5 separate regions of the Homo sapiens genome follow, and all the other regions are linked to region 1. Evidence: fine-mapped expression QTL. A gene starts in region 1. Each other region holds a variant in brackets. All regions are shown on one strand. Distances are between the middles of the regions. Region 1 holds the start of LZTS1 (leucine zipper tumor suppressor 1). Region 2 overlaps LZTS1 (leucine zipper tumor suppressor 1). Region 3 overlaps LZTS1 (leucine zipper tumor suppressor 1). Region 4 overlaps LZTS1 (leucine zipper tumor suppressor 1). Region 5 overlaps LZTS1 (leucine zipper tumor suppressor 1).

What was found. PIP is the estimated chance that this variant, and not a neighbour inherited with it, causes the effect.
Region 2: its variant is fine-mapped to the expression of LZTS1 in whole blood (TOPMed, PIP above 0.99).
Region 3: its variant is fine-mapped to the expression of LZTS1 in whole blood (TOPMed, PIP above 0.99). The same link has a PIP of 0.9 or more in T cells, blood mononuclear cells and testis.
Region 4: its variant is fine-mapped to the expression of LZTS1 in whole blood (TOPMed, PIP above 0.99). The same link has a PIP of 0.9 or more in fibroblasts.
Region 5: its variant is fine-mapped to the expression of LZTS1 in whole blood (TOPMed, PIP above 0.99).

What each region holds. Positions count from the first base shown.
Region 1 is chr8:20,302,353-20,306,467 of GRCh38, forward strand. LZTS1 (leucine zipper tumor suppressor 1) reads right to left here and starts at 1,611. Exons shown (of 4, transcript NM_021020.5): 1 at 1,388-1,611. RefSeq lists a silencer at 1,601-1,670.
Region 2 is chr8:20,249,667-20,253,781 of GRCh38, forward strand. It overlaps LZTS1 (leucine zipper tumor suppressor 1), which reads right to left. Exons shown (of 4, transcript NM_021020.5): 3 at 3,116-3,919; 4 at 1-697. The coding sequence ends at 56. Among named protein-coding and RNA genes, the nearest start is that of LZTS1-AS1, 24 kb to the right of the region's middle. RefSeq lists an enhancer at 1-443. The variant G/A (reference allele first, on the strand shown) is at 2,186.
Region 3 is chr8:20,263,970-20,268,084 of GRCh38, forward strand. The region is part of intron 1 of LZTS1 (leucine zipper tumor suppressor 1); the gene reads right to left. Among named protein-coding and RNA genes, the nearest start is that of LZTS1-AS1, 9.7 kb to the right of the region's middle. The variant T/C (reference allele first, on the strand shown) is at 1,601.
Region 4 is chr8:20,277,554-20,281,668 of GRCh38, forward strand. The region is part of intron 1 of LZTS1 (leucine zipper tumor suppressor 1); the gene reads right to left. The region is part of intron 1 of LZTS1-AS1 (LZTS1 antisense RNA 1); the gene reads left to right. Among named protein-coding and RNA genes, the nearest start is that of LZTS1-AS1, 3.8 kb to the left of the region's middle. The variant C/G (reference allele first, on the strand shown) is at 1,690.
Region 5 is chr8:20,270,469-20,274,583 of GRCh38, forward strand. The region is part of intron 1 of LZTS1 (leucine zipper tumor suppressor 1); the gene reads right to left. Among named protein-coding and RNA genes, the nearest start is that of LZTS1-AS1, 3.2 kb to the right of the region's middle. RefSeq lists an enhancer at 1,406-1,941. The variant C/T (reference allele first, on the strand shown) is at 2,016.

The DNA of each region.
Region 1 (4,115 bases):
AACACCTTTCCCGTCTGTACATGCTATCTCTAATACCCATATGCGCACACTCTTCGGGCACCTCCATTCTCCCTCTGGATGCCTGCAGAAAATTGTTTTTGAACTTAGAGAAAGCTCAGGTTGCAAACACCCTCTTGCCGGTACCCGCAGACTCTTCTCAGGGTCTTGGTGCAGGAACTGCCAAGCAGATAGCTCATCTCTTTGTGGCTGGGCTCCTGGGCTCCCAGCATTCCTATTAGGCTGCACTTCCAGCAGAGTGTGGGATCCTTATTAGGAGCAGCGCCTGCCCGGCATGGTCCAGAACTCAGTGCCTCCTCAGTACTTTCCCAGCGCCCGGGACCAGAGAGTAGAGGGGCTGATGGCAGCGGGACGGTGTGGAGGGAATAAGTGAGACAGGAAACACTTTAGGAGGCCAGATCCCTAAGCACTTCTTATTCCTGGGAAATTGAAGACTGCGAAGCTAACAAGTCTGGAGCACTTTCCCAGGCCTGACATACTCGTGGGCGAGCACAAGGCTCATTTGCTCCACAGTTCAAACCTTTCCACTTGGAGCACGAAAAAGAGACATCACCTGGCCCTTGGTGTCTCGGGGATGCCTGTTGCTGCCAAGCTGCGACCTCTGAAGCCCCTCCAGCCAGAGCAAAGCCTGTGGCAGGGTGGAGGGGTGAGGTCTGGCTGCCTAGGGTGGCGGTGGAAGAAGTGAAGGTAGTGTGGGGCTGTCTGTGTGTGCATGGTGCTTTGACTAAATTCCTGAATTGCACATCCAGGACCGACCCCAGGAAGCTGCAGCCCCAGGGAGCCACTTAGACACTTCGATTTACCACCTTCCTCTCTAACCACCTCCGCCCGTGTGACTTATTCCTTGAGGGAAACCTTTCAAATCTCTGGCTGCAACGCACCGGTGTCCTCCCCACCGGTGTGGACACAGCTCATCTGCAAAGTTCCAGGCGGCGAAGTTCAGCGGCCCGGACCGACCGCCGGACCCTCTTCCTGCGGCCCCTGCTCCTGCGGCCTCGCGTCCCCACCTCCCACTTCTTCACCTCCGACACCAGTGTCACCTAACACTGACGTCCCCGCCAGGATCAGCATCGGTGCTGGGAATAGACGAACCCCGTCTGCAGGAGACACGAAGACAAAGACAGGAGGACAGACGCACAGTCACCTCCTCTGGGCCGGGCCGGAGAAGCGGCGCCCACCCTGCAGAGGGGAGACCCTGACAGCTCCACGCGGAGACAAAGACACCTCGACAGCCACGGACACAGACAGACAAAGACCGACGGACGCGCGGACGCACGGACGGTCCGGCCCGGCGAGGGGAAAGCGGTTTCCCGCAGCCAGGGCAGCAGACCCTCCAGGGGCGAGGAGATCCCCGGCCACCGCACCTTACCTGCCCCCTGCGCCTCGGGCGCACTTGAGACTTTTTTTTTTTCCCAGTGTTTCCCGGTGTGTTCCCGTCTCTCTTTTTCCAGAGCTGCTGAGCGGGCCGGGCCGGTCCCACTGCGCGGGATGCAGCTCCCGGCTCCCACTCACTGGCCGAGGCGGGCAGAGAAACTTTCGGCCTCCCCGCCCGGCCGCTGCCAACCCGCCAGCTCCAGGCGCGCCGGCCTCTGCGCGGGTCCCGGAGCCGGGGCGGGGCGGGGCGGGGCGGGGCGGGGCGGGGCCGGCCCGGGGCGGGGCCAGAGCCGGCGCCGCTGATTGGCAGCGAGCTGCCGGCAGCCTGGTCTGTGCCGCTCGGCGGCCTTTGTTCCGGGCTGACAGCTGGGGCTGCTCGCGACCTCGCGGCTCCTTCGCGCCCGCGGCCTGCGCGGGGTCCCGGGTCCCGTCTCTCTGCTCTCACTTCCATCAGCCCCATTGGGCGACCCTGCCCCCTCAGTCTTCCTTTCTTGCCTGGCCCCCTTTCTCCGATTGTTCCTGTCTTGCTCTTGTCGCATCCTTTTTTCCCTTTCATTACCTGAAATTCTTACTCCAGTTTTGTTTAAAATCCATTCCTTCTCCCGTTCTGTGTATGTTCCCCTTTCTTCATTACCCCTTCCTCTTAATCGCCAGTTTATTTTTCTTAATACCGTCTCTCCCGCTCCCGACTCGCACTAAAGGGCGTGTGTTTTGTTCAAGGACTGGACTAGCACCCAAGTGAGGGGCATTGCGAACCACACCAGGATTACAGGCTAGAGTCCAGAGCACCGGGACTCCCACTCCCAAAACATGTCAAAAGCAAACTTTTCCAGCTCTGAGGGAGCTGAGTTTCAGGTGACAGCAGAGGCCTGTTTCAAGTTTATAGCTATTAGTCTCACCCAGTCCCCTTATAATACTATCATTTTCTCAACCACCCTCACTTTTAACTTCTAGCAACTGAGCCAGGAGAGGATTCAAGCTTACAAGGTTTTGTAGGACAAAGGGTCAGTTAACCGGAGTGCTAGGTGCAGCATGAGGCTTGGGGGCTTGAGGGTGCACTGAGGCTAATCCTCTAAAACCAGGCTTGGCGGGAAGATGGCAGCTCTGCCCAAGGAGTGTTAGCCTCATCTTGAAAGAAGCCTGTGTGTGTGTGTGTGTGTGTGTGTGTGTGTGTGTGTGTGTGTTGGGGGGTGGGGGATAGATGTAATGGATTAGGATTGACATAGCCGATCTGATTATAAATAGCATGGGGGCCGGACGCGGTGGCTCATGCCTGTAATCTCAGCACTTTGGGAGGCCGAGGTTGGTGGATCACTTGAGGTCAGGAGTTGAAGACCAGCCTGGCCAACATGGTGAAACCCCGTCTCTACTAAAAAAAAAAAAAAAAAAAAATACAAAAATTAGCTGGGTGTGGTGGCAGGAGCCTGTAATCCCAGCTACTTGGGAGGCTGAGGCTTGGGAATTGCTTGAGCCTGGAAGGCAGAGGTTGCAGTGAGCCAAGATAGTGCCACTGCACTCCAGCCTGGGTGACAGAGTGACACCGTGTCTCAAAATAAATAAATAAATAAATAAATACAAAAAAATTAAATAGAATTGTGGTGGCAGGGGGGACAGCTCAAAGGAAAACAAGCCATATGGTTTCTGCCACACCCCTGCTCAAAACCCTGTAGGGGAATCTCACTGCCTTCGGTTGTTGACCCTGAAGACTCTGACCTTCGAATCTAGGCTTCCTGAAAGATGGCACCGCGAGGGTTTAAGAACACAGACAGGCTTCGCTGCTTGTTATTTGAGCCATTACCTTCCCCTCCCTCTTTCTCAGTTTTTCTTTTTCTTTCTTTCTTTTTTTATTTGTGAAATGAGGTAACAAGTCCCAGTGTAAATTCCCTGAAGGCAGGAACTTGTTCTCTTTTATTGGTGGCTGAGGGACTTGGTCTGTTTTATTCATAGATGTATCCCCGACACCTAGAACTTGCCAGGCAACATAGTAGGCACTCAATATGTATTTGTTAAATGAATGAATTTCTCATGTATAGGTTTGTTCTGATGATTAAATGAAACCCACTGCCTTGCGGTAAGTACATACACGTGGCAGTAATTACAAGCAATACGACAATTTCTAAGTGTCAACCCCAAAGGCTACTCAGCCTTTTCCTGAACATCACCTCCTTTTCCCCACCTTTGTATAAACCTGCCCCTCAGTCTGAAAAGCTTTTCTCCTGCTCTTCTAACTCTACCTCTCAAAATCTGAGACAAAATATGGAACCCTTACTCACACCTTCTCTTATCGTCCAGGGCAAAATAATGTCTTCTTTTTCTAAAGCGCCATGCTTCTTTGTGTTGCATTTATTGACAGAGAACATGTATTCTTGCTTGCTGGTGAGAGTATCTCAAGAATTTTAGCTGAATGAGTTAATATCGATCAAACATTCCAGCGCTTTAAGGAAAGAGCAGACTCCTGGAAGGTAGATTAAGGTATGAGGTGGGCTCCAGACTTCAAACTCATTTTCACATCGTCGGAGGTGAGATTCCATGGAAGAGACAAAGGACTCTGGAAGCCCACTTTTTGTTCTGGCCCTACTGCTGACTATATGCTCTTGGACAAGCCATGTCCCTAATGAGGCCTCAGTTTCCTCATCTGGAAAGTGGATGGTTTGGAGTCCCTGATGAGACCTCAGTTTCCTATCTGGAAAGTGGATGGTTTGGAGTCCCTGATGAGGCCTCAG
Region 2 (4,115 bases), 53 kb before region 1:
GGAGAGCCCTGCCTCCCAGTGCCAGGTCCCCAGACTCGCCTTCCCAGGCAGCCCCTCAGATCTCAGTGGCTATGATGTCCTCGTAGGGGATGTCAGCCCCTTCCAGGTCAACCTCCAAGGGCTCCCCGGCGCTGTCCCCACGTGCCAGCTGCTGCAGGGCCTTCTCCAGGCGCTGGTTCCGCTGGTACATGGCCACGTAGCTCTGCTGCAGCTGTTTCTGGTACTGAATCACCTTCTCCTTCTCCTCCTTCCACACGAGCCGCTCATGCTGGAAGCCCGAGGACATCTGGTCATGGCCTTGCCGCTCCTCCCGCAGCTCGGCCCGCAGCCGCTCCAGCTCCCGCTGCAGGGCAGGGACGTCCTCGGGGAAGGTGGGCGGCCCCATGTCGCGGGCCAGGGCGGCCTGGGCCCGCAGCTCCTGCAGCTCCTGCTCCAGCAGGTTCACCTTCTCCCGCAGCAGCTCCGCCTCGTTCTTCTTGCGCTGCAGCTCATTCTCACAGACCTCCAGCTCCAGGCCCTTGGTGCGCAGGGCGCCCTCCAGGTCCTGGGTCCTCAGCTCCAGGCCCTCCAGCTTGCCCCGCGTGTCCTTCAGCTGTGCCTTGAGACCCAGGATCTCGCTAGCCTTGGCGTTCACCTCCGTCTGGGACTCCTTCAGCTGCTGCTTCAGGAGGGAGATCTCGCCTGACTTCTGGCACACCTGCCGAGGGTGGGGTGGAGACAGAGTGCCAAGAGGTGAGTGTCCTTACCCAGGGAAGTGACAGCTCAGCTGCCTAAAATAACCAAGCCACTCCGGATGCGGTGGCCCGGTGTTAGGCATTCCAGCCTTTGTCCAATCTGAAAGTAAGCTGAACATTGCTGTGACCTTTTCCCCAGGTTATCGAGCTAGGCTATATAGTAAAATGATAAAATAATAATAATCATGTATAATGACACATAGTATATTATTATTGTTATTATTTGAGAAGTCTCGCTTTGTCACCTAGGCTGGGGTGTAGTGGCGTGATCTTGGCTCACTGCAACCTCCGCCTCCCCTCTGATTCTCCTGCCTCAGCCTCCCAAGTAGCTGGGATTACAGACACCTGCCACCATGCCTGGCTGATTTTTGTATTTTTAGTAGAGACGGGGTTTCCTCATGTTGGCCAGGCTGATCTCGAATTCCTGACCTCAAGTGCTCTGCCTGCCTCTGCCTCCCAAAGTGCTGGGATTGCAGGCGTGAGCCACCACGCCTAGCCACACAGAAGTATATTATTATAAACATACTTTCACTAATAATTTGTAGTGTTATTAAGTGCCAAGCCATACATTTGCTCATCTATTCCTTACAACCCGATGAAGTAGGTACTATTAGTAGTCCTCAATTTACATCAATGAAACTGAGGCACAGAGAGGTTATGATAGCAAATAGCTGGTGAAGTGACCAGCCTGAGGGCTAATATATATATATATATATATATATATATATATATATATATATATATATATAAAATATAAAGTATAAGAGTAGAGATTTGATCCCAACAGTTTAATCACTATACCCCATTGCCACCATGGCTAATGTATTTACAATCACCTGGATCATAAGTGGTCAAGCTGAGGTTCAAAGCCAGGCCCATGCCTCAGCCATGACTGTGTCACTCCCTTCGTGGCATGAATACAGGGTTGGCCTTGGAATGAAATTCTTGGTCCCAAGCACGCATCCTGGGTAGGGTCGGATTTTCTCCAGGACTGTGCAGTGTTTCACTGAGGGCAAGGGGAAATTTCTACTGTGAAAGGAAATGTGAAGGTGGCTTCCAGGCTAGTTCCAAGAATCCATTCTGTAGAGCCACATGCTCTGGACTTCATTCACTCTTAAGATTCAGCCAGACTGGCCTTGGTCTCCCATGACCCCAGATGGCCAAGATCCAGAGACACATGGGTCTAACCTGTGGCTTCGGTTTTCATCATTGCTCTTGGCCAAATTTTGATGGGGGATAGGGGTGGAAATAGAGAAGAAGAGCAAGAGGAGAAGACAATGATTCCTCGTTTGACAGATGTGGATTGGGCTCTGCATCCAAGCCAGCATGATACTAGTCACTGGGTACAGCAGTGAATTTGTGAGGTAGTCTTTACTCCAGTAGACAGGAGAGAGGAGGGCTGGGTGCATGCAGGGGTGAGGTCAGAGGATGTGGGCATAAACGTCGATGAC[G/A]GAAATCAGGCTGACACCAAAACCAATACCATTGGTGTTAAATGGGGGTGATACAGCTGCCAGCAGTGGGCAAGTTAAACCACTGGTTGTTGACTTGCACATAGCCAGGGGTTTGCGTGTAGACTGAGAGTTGGACTCTGAACTGGGGGTGAGGCAGGCACGTGGACAGACCAAGCTGGGTGCGAGCATGTAAAGAGCCTCAACGATGGGCTTGAACTCCATGAGTCATCCAGACCACCAGGCTGGTGAGAAAAGCTGCTTTCCCACTAATAGATGCAGAGGTTATGGGGTTCTCCAGCACGGTCAGGTACAGATGCCTCATTTCCACGTGTGACCGGGTGAGTGAGTGTGTGTGAGTGTGTAAGTGTGTGAGTGGGGGACTCTTTACTTCCTCTCCTAGGTTTCCATCTCAGCTCACCAAATAGAAGTTCCACTTACACTTCAGCAAGGAGTGGCCACTTCCATCACTGAAACCTGCCACCAATAGGGTCCCTCTTACTAGTGGGTGCAGTCCCTCCCTCCAAAGCAACAAATGCATTCTGTGCTCTCTTGGGCCCCTGGCCCCGCCTGAACTCAGGCACGGCTTGTTCTTCTTCTGAGCCTCCTGGGAGCTGATGGAAGGGAGGTCAGCCCACAGCCTGGCTGGGCCTTGGTCATCTGGCTTCCGGCTTCATGATTTAATGGCTCACTTGGGAAACTGAAATCTAGGAGCCATGAGGGTGATGGTGGGGACAGGAGGAAGCTCAGATGTAAGTCGATCCCCCAACATGGTTTGCAGGGAGCCCCTTCTTTGGGTGATAAAGCCAGCACATTAGCCCCGCTTGCCTGCGCGGTCTGTGTTTGCACGCTATTGGCCGGCACCAGAAGGAGAGGGGGGTACTGGCGCCAAACCGCTGACCACCCAAACCCATGAGCCCTGTGTGGCCTCACCTCCCACTGGGTCTCCTCCAGCGCGGGGCCGAAGCTGGTCTTCTCCCTCTCGTAGGACCTGAGCTTGGTCTCCAGCAGGTCCTGCTCCTTCATGAGGCTCTCGAGCTCCTGCCGGAGCTGCCGCTTCTCCTGCTGAAGCTGCAGTACCTGCAGGTGCAGGACCTGCTGCGCGCGCTGGCTCTTCTGCGAGGCCTGCTTGAGCTTGTTGCCGCCTTTGGGCTCCGGGCCCTCCAGCTCGTCCCTGCAGCGCCGCGGCCGCTCCTCGTAGGCCAGGCTGGAGGCAAGCTCCTTCTCCTCAAAGCTGCGCTGCAGCTTCTGGAGGGCGCCCTCCCTCTCCAACAGCTTCTGCTCCAGCTCCTGGATGCTGCACTCGTCCGTGGAGATGGGGGAGCGGACACACGAGGGGCCCTTGTCTGCCTTGTTCGAGTGGCCCAGCTTGCTACCTCCGTCGGAGAAGGACAGAGCCTTCAGGCTCATCATGTTGCTGTCCTGGAGGACGATGCCCTGGGTGATGTTGTGGGCGGAGCCCCCAAAACGGCTTGTGGGTCCCACGGGTGTGACCAGCGGGTCCAGCTGGTAGCTGCTGCTGGTGCTGTGTGTGGGCAGGCTGGACATGGAGTTCCGGCCGGAGTCTGACAGCGCCCCAGAGCACAGGCCAGGCTTCAGCTCCTGCTCCTTGGGCTTGTCTGGAGGGGCGGGGTGCAGCTGGTGGCTGGCACTCTCCGGGGAGGAGTGCAGGATGGCTCCTGACCGTGGCAGCACAGGCTTGAAGGCTGTGGGCCTCACTGCACCCTTCTCGGAGCCCTGTAGAGGAAAAGGACCGCGGTGACTCATGCCTCCCCTGCGCGCGCATTGCACCCTCCCTCCCCAGGCACGCGTGCCGACCTTGAGCCAGTCTGGGCTCTCTGAGCGCACGCAGCACCCCTCTTGGTCAATTGTCTCAGCAGACCTTGCCTGTTGCTTTGAAGCAGCTGAATGTCATCTCTCTTAGGAAGGAAAA
Region 3 (4,115 bases), 38 kb before region 1:
GAAACAAACATCTCAGAGCTGGAGTCCCCATTCCCTATTCCTTCTCCCCACTCCCACCCCTAATCTCTCTCCCCAGGTGGAAAATTCTCATGATTTGAGTGGGAACATTTTTGGATCATTAAACATATTTTAACGTCTATGAATGCTATATGTTTTTTACTTTACATAAGTCATATCATGTCATATATATCATTCTGCAACCTTAATTGTTTTATTCGACCTTTTATTTGATACTTCGGATCCATGCATATTGACAGCATGTAGAGCTAGATCTTCCCATTTACCTGCTGTGTAATATTCCACCTCATTTCTTTTACTATTCCCTACTTAGATGTTTCCATTCTGTTGCAAAAACCCTCTTATATATGATTATTTTTCCACGTATGAAAGCTTTACTAAGATTTATTTTATTGGGGGTCTCAGAAGCTGTCAGTTTTTAAAGCCCCGTTCCTTAAACTGTGCAGGAGAGACGACATCTAGGACCTCTATTAGCCAAGATATCAAAGGAAGGCAGCGGCAGTGAGACAGAGAGCCCCTGAGTCACAGTTGGCTGTGTTACCCTGGGGGAGGGGAGGAGAAGTTGCTGTTACTCAGAAGAGGGGCACTGGCAGAAATGAGGCCCAGGGAGGAGCCCTGTGACCAGGTGTGGTGAAGGAGCTTTGGCTGAGCAGAGGGGTTGACCTGCTGCAGGTACAGAGGAGCCCCCTGCTCTGAGGCAGCCTGGAACTCGAGGCACAACCAGCCAGGCAGGACCTCGGCCGTCCTCTGCCCCAAATGCTTCACTACACCCTGAGGCCAGAGCGGAAAAGGGATTTGCCAAGCTCATATCACAAATTCCAGGCTCCAACCCTTTATTCTGTCTATTTGACTAACAGGACAGGGACAACTGGGTTTCATTTCCAGCTGAGGGGAAGAGGGAAACGGGAGAAAGAGCAGCCCCTGATCTACCAGGGCACGTGTGGAAAGGGGGGATGTGGGGTGTGTACGTGTGTGTGTCAGTTTGTCTGATACAAATGGGAGTTCAGCCTGTTGGGCTCACGGTGCTGCTTGAATCAGAGAGGGTCACCCTGTGGGTTCAAGTGCTGGGAAGGCAGAGGAGGCTGCAGCTGCTGTCCCAGGTCGGGGAGCAAGCTGTCTGCAGGAATGGCTGGTAGGTTGCCGGGCAGGGATCAGAGTTCTGCCTGTAGCTCTCTCCTTCCCACTGGGGCGGCATCACCAGCCCAGGGTAATTTCTAATCTTAGCCATGGGAACCACGCCTTCGCTTTTTCATGCTCAGTTCCATCTGTGCAACCTGGAGCACTTCACACTCACTATTATTCATTCACATTGTCCCCCAGGGTAGCGGCATGGCAGGCATCGTGTTGACTGCAGAGAAAAAGAGGAGCAAGGCCTCTCATAAAGAACTTGCATCTCAGCTAGGCATGGTGGCTCATGGCTATAATCCCAACACTTTGGGAGGCCAAGGGAGGAGGATGGCTTGAGGTCAGGAGTTCGAGACCAGCCTGGGAAACACTGTGAGACCCTCCCTGCCATGTCTACAAAAGATTTTTTAAAAAAATGAGCCAGGCACAGTGCCACAATGCCTATAGTCCCAGCTAT[T/C]TGGTAGGCTGAGGTGGGAGGATTGCTTCAGGCTAGGAGTTGGAGGTTGCAATGAGCTATGATCATGCCACTGCACTCCAGCCTGGGCAACAGAGAGACTCTGTCTCAAAAAAAAAAAAAAAAAAAAAAAAAAGGCAGGGGAGAAAACAACCCCTGAATCTCACCATGAAACCTCAGCTTCCTTTCCAAGAAAGAATACAGCCCTGTTTCAGGCCTGGCTCCCATCTCCCTGCTCTGCGCAGAGGGCAGGAAGTTCCCTTGGCCACAGTTGCTCCTCAGTGCTCAGCTCCCTTGGCCCTCAGCCTGCACAGCTCTTGCATCATCTAACTTTTCAGGGGTGAAAGTCTGTCACCCCACTTATCTTTAAACCCCCTTGAAGGCAGATAGCACTAAAGCTTCTTTGTATCACACACAGGGTCAAACACAGTACTAAGAACATAATAGATGCTCAACAATTTTTTTTTTTTTTTGGAGACAGAGTCTCACTCTCTTGTCCAGGCTGGAGTGCAGTGGTGCAATTGTAGCCCACTGCAACCTCAACCTCCAAGGCTCAAGAGATCCTCCTTCCTCTGCCTCCCAAGTAGCTGGGACTACAGGTATATGCCACCATAACTGTCTAATTTTTAAATTTTGTGCAGAGACAGGGCAGGGCTTGCTATGTTGCCTAGGCTGGTCTCAAACTCCTGGGCTCAAGTGATCTTCCTGCCTTGGCCGCCCAAAGTGCTGGAATTACCAGTGTGAGCCATCACACCTGGCTCTCAATAAATATTTTTAATAAAACCAGCTCATAAGGAGGCACAGGGACTACTGACCTAGTTCACAGAAGGGAAGCTGAGGCTCTGGGAAGGCATGTGACTTAAACTGAGGTCTCCACATATGCAGATACCGAAGCCAAGTCTATACTACCAGAACCCAAATCTGGTTTTCACTCAAACATTCATCATGTAGACTTTGAGACAACTGGTCACCTGGGGGAAGTGCATCCACCCCCTTCCTCAACAACCAATCCTGTTCGGCGTTTTGGACCAAGACAAAAAAAAAATACAAGGCAGAGTTTCTGTTTTTGAGGATCTGGTGGAGAGATCTGACAGCTATGTACACCTAAACAAAAAGGGTTTAAAAAGCAGCATGAATTTAACCAAAAATGCAGCTTTCTTAGGAATGTGCTGAGTTAGAGCCAGTTTGTCTCTGCCCCTAGCATGTGAGCGGTTTTTAATTTTTTCTTTTGTAGGAAAGGAGGTGAAAGTTACTCTCTTGGCCAGGCATGGTGGCTCACACCTGTAATCCCAGCACTTGGGGATGCCAAGGTGGGCAGATCACCAGAGGTCAGGAGTTCAAGACCAGCCTGGGCAACATGGTGAAACCCTGTCTCTACTAAAAATACAAAAATTAGCCAGGCATGGTGGCGCGCACCTGTAGTCCCAGCCACTCAGGAGGCTGAGGCCGAGGAATCACTTGAACCCAGGAGGCAGAGGTTGCAGTGAGCCAAGATCGCACCACTGCATTCCAGCCTGGGCAACAAAGTGAGACTCCATCTCAAAAAAAAAAAAAAAGAAAAGAAAAAAAAAGAAAACAGCTACTCTCTTATCCGCCTCACCTCTCAGGCACCCTGGTGGAGGATGCTGTCTGGGCTGTCGGGTCCCCTGGTTTCTGGCATCGTCCTTGTGTTCTTTTCCTCCTGCTTCTTTGTCCCCAGGGTGCTGAGAGCCCAAGAGTGTAGACCTGGTCTCCATGTTGGGGGCTGGATAGCAGAGGTGCGGGAGTTGGGGTAGGAGGGCGGTGCTGCAGTCAGGGAACCAGAGCTCTAATTCTGGTGCTGCCTCACTCCTGCTCTGGGACACTCAACCCACTTACTGGGCCCTGCCTACTCTTACATGTGGCCAGCACAGTTGTAGGGCCTTAGGAGGAAACCATCAGTCATCATTCATCAGAACAGACACTTGTTTTTTTGCTTGTTTGTTTTTTGAGACAGAGTCTCACTCTGTCGCCAGGCTGGAGTGCAGTGATGTGATCTCGGCTCACTGCAACCTCTGCCTCCCGGGTTCAAGTGACTCTTCTGCCTCAGCCTCCCAAGTAGCTGGGACTACAGGCGCTCACGCCACCATGCCCAGCTAATTTTTTTATTTTCAGTAGAGACGGGTTTCACCATGTTGGCCAGGATGGTCTCGATCTCTTGACCTCATGATCCACCCGACTCGGACTCCCAAAGTGCTGGGATTACAGGTGTGAGCCACTGCGCCCGGCCCAGACCTCACACTTGGCACACACTTTACTTGCATGTTTGCATTAGGCCCTAGACAAAAGATCCCAGACCGACGGATCTGCTGTATCATCAGGCATACAATTCAATCTTTCAGGGTCTCCATTTCCTCATGTGTCAGATAAGCACAGTTGATACCAAAGCCCGGCCACTGTCAGGATTAAATGAAATCACAGATACAAAAAATGCTTGACCAGTGAGGACAGTACACATGGGATGCACTGAAACCAAAGTGCATGTGAAATTATAGAGCAG
Region 4 (4,115 bases), 25 kb before region 1:
GTAACAAGTATATAAGGCTGGTATTAATTCCAACAGGACAAACCAAGAAATGGTTTAAGAACTGGGCCTTTAACTGTGGATTTTCACTTTGTAGGCTGATCTATGAGTTGGAGGAAGTAGGGTGGGGTGTTAGAAAATTCCAGCAACTCCAGGTGGGCGAACTGTCCTAAAAGCACCCTTTTCTCTGTTTCTGTGCACCATAGTGCCAAGAATCTGGTGCAAGATCCAAAACAGCAGGATTTGTCAGCCTCCTAGCCATTTCCCAGTAGGACTTGCTGTGTCTAATGCCAATTCCAGCTTGGTGCAGAGCTTGGGAACCCTGGGACTGGAGGGAAGGCTGGGAGCAGGATAATGTGTGTGTGGAAACACTCCCATCTACTATGAGCACCTTGGAACGTCTTGCTCACCACTGTATGTATCACTTAGCACAGCGCCTGGCACATAGTTGTGTTACAGTAGGTAGTCGGGCAGGCATGAGCAGGGCAGGAGAGTCCCCAACCCAGGAATGTCAGGTGACCATCAGATGGTCAGGTGGTTGTTACAGTGTGTCGCTGAAATAATAATTGGTCACAGCTGGTGCCAGGGACAGGCAGTCTCCCAGTAGATAGAAACACCTGAAGCTGGTGATCAGCAGCTTCCTGATAAGATCTCAGCAGTTGGGTGTGTGGGTTCAAGCATGCGCACTAAGAGGCAAAATGGTATAACTGGTATATTACCTTCCTCTAGGAACGAGACAGGTAAGTGGAGAATTCCTCAAATGAGCATGCACACAACTTCAGTAAACCCACGGTGCAGGTACAGCATTTGCCCTTCCCAAGTGCTGGCAGGCCACTGTGCATGTGGACAGCCCACCCAAAGGGAAGAATCAGGAGGAAATAACGCAACAGGAAGATGCCAACATAAGACCCCAGGTCAAAGGTCAAACCGTACACTTGACTCTCTCACAGGCCTCCCACCGGGCTCTCTTACAAGCGTGCTTCACTCCATTTCATTCCTGCCCTGATAGTTGTTAATACACTTTCACTCCTGCTCTAAAACTTGCCTCAGTTTCTCACTCTGCCTTATACCTCCTCTGTCTAATTCTTTCTCTGAGGAGGCAAGAACTGGGGTTGCTGCAGGCCTGTATGGATTTGCTGCTGCTAATATGGAGCTCAATACATATTCATCAAATGAATGAATGAATGAATGGACTTTCTGCCTTAGTTCTCTCCTAGCTCAAATAGATCTTCCACATTGCAGCAACTAGGCACTGCCTTTCTAAAACACAGACTTGACAGCTTCAGGTTCTTTTCCAGCCTCTCCTCTCTCCAATAATTGTCTTAATTTCCTTCCTCGGAGATCTGTACTCACTCCCTGCAGTACATTCATGACCCTTTATGCCCTGGGTCCCAACCCCAATTGCCAGTTTTATTTGTCCTGTCACCTGTCAGTGCTTTCTCACCATTTCTTCCAAATGCCACTCAGCACATAATGCTCTCATGTGCCACAGGCACAACCTAGAATCTCTTTCACAAAACTTCTCCCTATATCTCCAGCCTTCTGCCTGTGAAAACCCATCCTTCAAGGTCCAGCTCAAATGTCACTTCCTCCAGGAAGCCATCCTATGTTTTCTTTGCTGCCTTGTCTGTCATTGTACAATGGCAGACTGAAACTCTTAGAGAATTGATTTCATTCTGTTTCTGAAGTAAC[C/G]TGTTCTTTATCTGTCTATCCCCTCTGCTAGTCTTTGGGCTTCTTGAAGACTAACATTGTTTTGTCTCCATTTACCCAGCTAAACAGCCATCCAAGGAAGGAGGGAGGGAAATCAGAGAGGCTCAAAGAAGTTGGAAGATGTGTTAGTGGGCTGGTGACAGGAAAATAAAAAATAGCAGACATCTAGCTATTTGCCTCAGAAATTGCTGGACTTTGGAAGGCTGAATTGAGAGAATCGCCTGAGGCCAGGGGTTCGAGACCAGCCTGGGTGACATAGTGAGACCCCCCATGTCTACAAAACATTTTAAAATTAGCTGGGCGTGGTGCCATGCACCTGAAGTCCCAGCTACTGAGAGTCTGAGGTGGGAGGATCGCTTAAGTCCAGGAGTTCCAGGCTGCAGTGAGCTCCAGCCTGGGTGATGGAGCAAGACCCTGTCTCAAAAAAAAAAAAAAAAAAAAAGAGGCTGAGCATGGTGATTTATGCCTGTAATACCAGCACTTTGGGAGGCCAAAGTGAGCAGATCGCTTGAGTTCAGGAGTTTGAGACCAGCATGGGAAACATGGTGAGACCCCAACTCTAATAAAAACAAACAAATAAGCTGGGCATGGTAGCACATGCCCGTAGTCCCAGCTACTCAGGAGGCTGAGGTGGGAGGATCACCTGAGCCCAGGAGGTTGAGGCTGCAGTTAGCCATGATCTCTGGGTGACAGAGAGAAACCGTGTCTCAAAAAAAAAAAAAAAAAATTGCTGAAATTGCCAGTGAATTTTCTTTTCCTGATTTCACTTCCATCCCAAGAAGTAGAATTGCTACTGACCGAGAAAAGAGGTGAAGGAGGCCTTAGGCCATCCTCCTACACAGGAGACAGTGAAAGTGCTTGCTCTTATTCCCTTAGGTACCACCCCAACCCCAGATGAGGCTGGATTTCCCTCGTTTTCTCAGTTCTTTCTTTCGAAGAATCGGCCCTGATCTTCTTAGAGTAGCCCACAATAAGGGTGCACCCTTCCTTCTGCTTTCATCTGCCCAGTAATAGTGCTAATTGGAAGGACTTTGGCTCTTCCCGCAGCCTGGCTTTGTCAGGCGTAACAGTCCTCTCTCATTCTCTGGATGTGGCTCGTGTTCCTGCTGGCAGTCTTCTTCAGAGTTCACTTGTCATTCAGACCTCTGTGAAAGGCCCCCTTACAACTTGCTCATTCACTGTACCTCATTGTCCCTGCCCATTCATTGACATTCATGGGGATAATTCCTCCCGCTGCCACATGCACGGAGGCGCGTGCACATGTGTTCAGACCCCATGTCCCATTAGCAGTGAGAACACTTGAAATAAAAAAGCAGCACCGCCTGAATGTGGAACTGCCTTCCCCTTTAATAGCTGGGGAGTCGATTGCGCTAATGTTATTTCAAGAAGTGCCAGGAGAATTGGTGGGCACAGCAGAGCAGGGAGGGAGGAAGGGGCAGGGTGGTCCTGACAGTTCCCTTCCTTAAAGCACTGTCAGCGACATCACTCCGGACAGACCCAGCTCTCCTCCTCCCATCCTTCCTCCTTAGATCCAGCCAGTTCTGGGAGCTGCACTCCCTACCTTCCACCTGGACATTAGCCTGGCATTCAAGGCTCTCTAAAAAACCGCTCACAAGTACCTCCCAGACTTACCTTCTACCTCCTCTCTAGGCTGAATTCTTCTCTAACCAGCCAGGTCTAGGCTGATGATCTGCAGCTCACAGTTCGCTTATCTGTTCTTTCAAATCATTCCCCAGGGCCTGGGTGGCTGCAATGGCAGCAAGAACAGTTGTTCTCCCTGAGCTACTCAGCAAAGACGGTGTCTACTCAGTATTTTTTAACGTAATGGTTATAGGAATGGTTGAAGAAAATCATTACAGAAGCAGGACAAGGGTAAGATTGTGAGATGGGAGAGGATATCATTTGGATGTTTGTCCCCTCCAAATCTCATGTTGAAATTTGATCTCTAAGGGTGGAGGTGAGGCCTGGTGGGAGGTGTTTAGGTCACCGGGGTGGATCCCTCAAGAATGGCTTAGTGGCCTGGACACGGTGGCTCACGCCTGTAATCCCAGCACTTTGGGAGGCTGAGGTGGGCAGATCACCTGAGGTCAGCAGTTCAAGACCAGCCTGGCCAACATGGTGAAACCCCATCTCTACTAAAAATACAAAAAAAAAAAAAAAAAATTAGCTGCGCATTGTGGTGGGCACCTGTAATCTCAGCTACTCGGGAGGCCGAGGCAGGAGAATCGCTTGCACCTGAGGCAGAAGTTGCAGTGAGCCAAGATCGCACCATTGCACTCCAGCCTGGGCAACAAGAGTGAAACTCTGTCTCAAAAAAAAAAGAATGGCTGAGTGCCCTCCTCACAGTCATGAGTGAGTTCTTGCTGAATTCGTTTGCACAAGAGCTGGTCATTGAAAAGAGGCTGGCA
Region 5 (4,115 bases), 32 kb before region 1:
GGAAAATTAAGGGAACTTTGGAGCTTGTGAGTTTGGATGGGGCAAGAGTATGGCGAAGGACAGAGGTGGCAAGACAGAGTAGAAAGAAGCAGGAAGGCTGGAAAGCCCTCTGCCACCTCTGCCATACCCAGGAGGGCTTTGGTTTGGACAGGGAAGAGGGAGAACTTAGGACAAAAGGCGCAGACTCCTCCAGGAGGTGGGCAGGTGTGGGACAGGAGGAAGGGTGGGGGAAACACAGTACAAGTCTTAAAGACACTCCCTCCCCTTCTGGCCTTACCCCTCACCCCTACTTCAGTAGGGCTCATCTTTTAGATGCACCGAGTGTGTCCTCTGTGTGTGTGTGTGTGTGTGTGTGTGTGTGTGTTTGTGTGTGTGGAGAGGGAAGGGGTGGAACAGGGAGACCTGGTTGATTTCACATTTCTGGGTTTCGGAACCCAGAAAGGATTGGAATTGAGGAAGCCCCAGCAGGAAGCACAGCTCAGATTCCTGACTTTGGGTGCTGGAAATGACCTGGCGTGGCACGAAGAGTTTAACCTGGTCCCTCAGGGAGGGCAGCTTTGGGTACCTGGCACTGTCTGTGTGTGCCTGAGTGTATTTTTGTGTGCTCAACAGCATGGGAGTCTGTGTGCACAAGCCAGGAAGCCTGTGGCCATTCCCAACGAGTCTCTACCTGTCCTGAGTTAAAGCTCTCTTGGTACCCTTTGATGTGTCTGGCTGAGGAATTTTGACTTCTGTGTCACCTCTGCCCTGATTCCTCAAGCTCCTTGCCTCCTCCTGCAAGGCTTCTCAGTGAACTAGAGCCTCACATTTAGCCCAGGAGCCGCTGAGCCTGGGTTGAGCATCCGGCCGTGTTTCCACTCTCCTGGAGTCTGTGGACCCCACAGCCCCTGACAGTGAGATAATTAACCTCTTGTTGGAAGCCCAGGGCTCCTGCAGTGTTGACCCCCAGCTGCCACCTAAGTCCCTCAGCTGTGCCCCCTCTGTCTCCATGAACCTTCCTGGTGAGTGTTACCAGCAGCAAGGCCAGAGGTGCTTAAAGAGGCTCCGAAGAGCCACCTGTAGATGCTCGGGGTCACTCCCACTTTGCTTCTGAACCTCCTTGCCCTTCTGGCCCCGGTGACGCTGAGTGACTCATAGGCCCCACTTGCCATCCTCTCGGTTCTTTCCCACCTACTCTTCCCTCTGCCAGGAACAACCTCCCTGACCGCGGCTGCTTCACCAGTGCAGGGATGGTGGAAAAGCGCCTCTCCCTCCCCCTTGCCTTCCTTGACTGTGTCTGAATAAAGCAATGCCAGTCCTATGCTCTGTTAAGAATTCAAACCCAAGACTATGCATTTCCATTGCCTGTGGTTTGGTGGGTGCACAGCGGCTGCTGGACAGACTAGCCATAGGCGAGCCAGGTGAAAGCAGGGCCGGGGCCTGGCTTGATGTGCCTGGTGGGGCAGCCGCAGCTGGGGGTCACCTCCCAGTATATGTGTCAGCACAGGCTTTGACAGGTAGAAAGAACAGCCACTGGAGGGGTGAGCTGCTGGGAGCACCTGTGCATTTTTTCAATATTCACAAGTACTTATTGAACATTTATTGTGCACAGTCTCCATCAGGGCCCTGTAGGCATAGCACTGAGCAGAACAGAATCTGCCTTAATAGAATCATGTCATGAATCATGTCAGACAATGGACACATTTAACTTGGCATTCAAGGTCCGATGCAATCTAAGCCCAACCTGTCTTCCCAGGTCATCTCCCACTATTTCAGGCTAGAATGACTGGGCCTGCTTCTTGACTGATCCACGATGTGCAGCTGCTGATACTCTGGGTCGCATCTGACCTCCAGAGTGACCTTACTGGTGTCCCTTGACCACCCTCAAGGGCCTGTCTTGCTTTTTTCCTCCCCTGTGGCTTTGCTCATGCCCAATTCTCCCTTCTGAGCCTGACCCCCCTTCCCAGATCAGGTCCTCATTGGTTTTCCCTGCTGGGTGGTCTTTGTATTTTGAAGTGGTGCCTTTGTCCACTAGA[C/T]ATGGAACTCTTTTTTGAGCCCAGATGCCGATGGGGACCCTAGAATCAAGACCCCCTAGCTGCCCTGTGCTTCTCCTGCTCCCTGTTGCATTTCTCAAATCTTATCAGTCCTTTGCCACTTACAAAGCCCTGTACCCACCTCTGCTGCCACACTCCCTGCAGACAACTTCATCTCTATAATACAGAGATAAGTAGAATCATTGGGAGGAAACTCCCTCAATTCCCTGAACTCATAAACCTGCAATTGACATGACTGCTGCCTCCTCTGTGCCTGTCACCGTGAAACAGAAGTCTGTCTTCATCTCAGACTAATCCTTCCAGCCATGGCGTGACTCTCGTCAACGCCAACCTTCTCACTTCCAGTTTTCTATTATTCTCTCCCATGAGCATTTAAACGTGCACAAGTCTCCCAATTCAAAAATAACATACAAGCTCCTGGACTCCATTTTCTTCTCCAGGGACCACTGTCTTTTTTCTCCCGTTCACAGCCAAGCTTCTCGAGAGAGACAGAACATCATACTCACTATTGCTGCTCGATCATTTCTCATTGGCTCTTCAATCCACAGAGGCCCTGGTTTCTGTCCCCACCAATCCACTAGAACTGCCCTCCGGGATGTTGCTAAATCCAATGGACCTTCCCAATAGTTAGCAAACTTGACCTCTCGGCGGCTCTGTCTCTTTCTTTTTCGGTCTGTGTTTTTTGAAACACTGCTTCCTTGGCTTATGTGATACCGTGATTGCCTGGCTTTCCTCCTGTTGCGCAGCCTGTCCTCTGTCACCTTTACCTCTTTCATTCTCTAAATGTGGATGCTTTTCAGGCTGTATCTGAGACCCTGACCTCTGCTCCTTCTGCACGGCGTCAGCTGCATCCACATGGGGATGATTTTTAGATCGTTATCTGCAGCCAAATCCTCTCCCCTGAGCTCCTGCCCTAAACATCCAACTGCGCTTCCCTCGGAGGGGCCACATCTCACCCTCGCACATCCACAGTGGAATTCTTCATTCTCTCTTGCTTGCCAGGATCCATCTGCCTTCAGCGTGCCCCTCCTTCTGGAATCCCGGTGTTAGTGAACAGCACAACTGTGATCAAGCCAGAAACCGGTCCCAAGAAACCTAAGCAAACCAGGAACTTTTGATTCCCACTCAGCCCTCACCCTACATCTGACCAGCCACCAAGCCCTGTCTCACTATTGCTTTTCCTCAAAACCAGCATTTCCCTGAGATTCCATAGCCACTGTCTTAGTCTAAGTTGCTATCATAGTTCCCTTGGGAAATTAATAGACCTGTTATATTTGTTTTTTTTTTTCCTAGCTCTCCCAAGGCTACCCTATTGCCCCAAAAATAAAGCCCAAATGTCCTAACATGGCAGAGAAGGCCTTCATGACTGGGACTTTCTGTATCTTTGTATCTTCATGTCATCCGCCACCACTTCCTCTCCTCCCCTCCCCAGGCCTGCCCGCCCTCTATTCTGAGACTGGAGTTTGTAAATCTGTCATTTTCTCCCTCAGACCCTGCCCTAGGTTTTCCCACGCTGCTCCCTAGGCCCAAAGCCCCTGGGACTTTGCTCAGAAGGCACTCTTCTGCTATGAAGCCTTCCCGTATCTGTGAGGCCCCTTCTGCGTGTTCTTACAGTGGGCATTAATCACTCTGTAGCACAGCTGCTCTCTACTTTGAGCTCTTTCTCAGTAGATGGCAAGACTGTTTTTCACCCAACACTGTACTCCCAGCTTCGAGCGCAGTACCTTCTGGCCCAAGACTCAGTGCTTGTTTGTTGAATGAATGGATAAGCGTGTGTTTATGCATCGTATTTTATTTTATGGTGCCTATGTTCTACCAGCTACCCTTTCCCAAATGCAACACCATAAAACACTCTACACAGTGGGTGTTTACGAACTTTTCATCCCTTCTCCTCATCCTAGGGAACCCCTTGGAATACACTAGGTAGCTTGGAGCATAGCGGCAATCATCTCCATCCCGGTGTGTGATGGAGGCTTCTCCATGTGGGCACTCATGCCTCAGTGGCACTCTGGCCTGAGCATTGGGTCCGAGCCTGTGGGCGTGTTGGAGTCTGTGGGCCTGAGTGTTAGACCCCCCTTATGT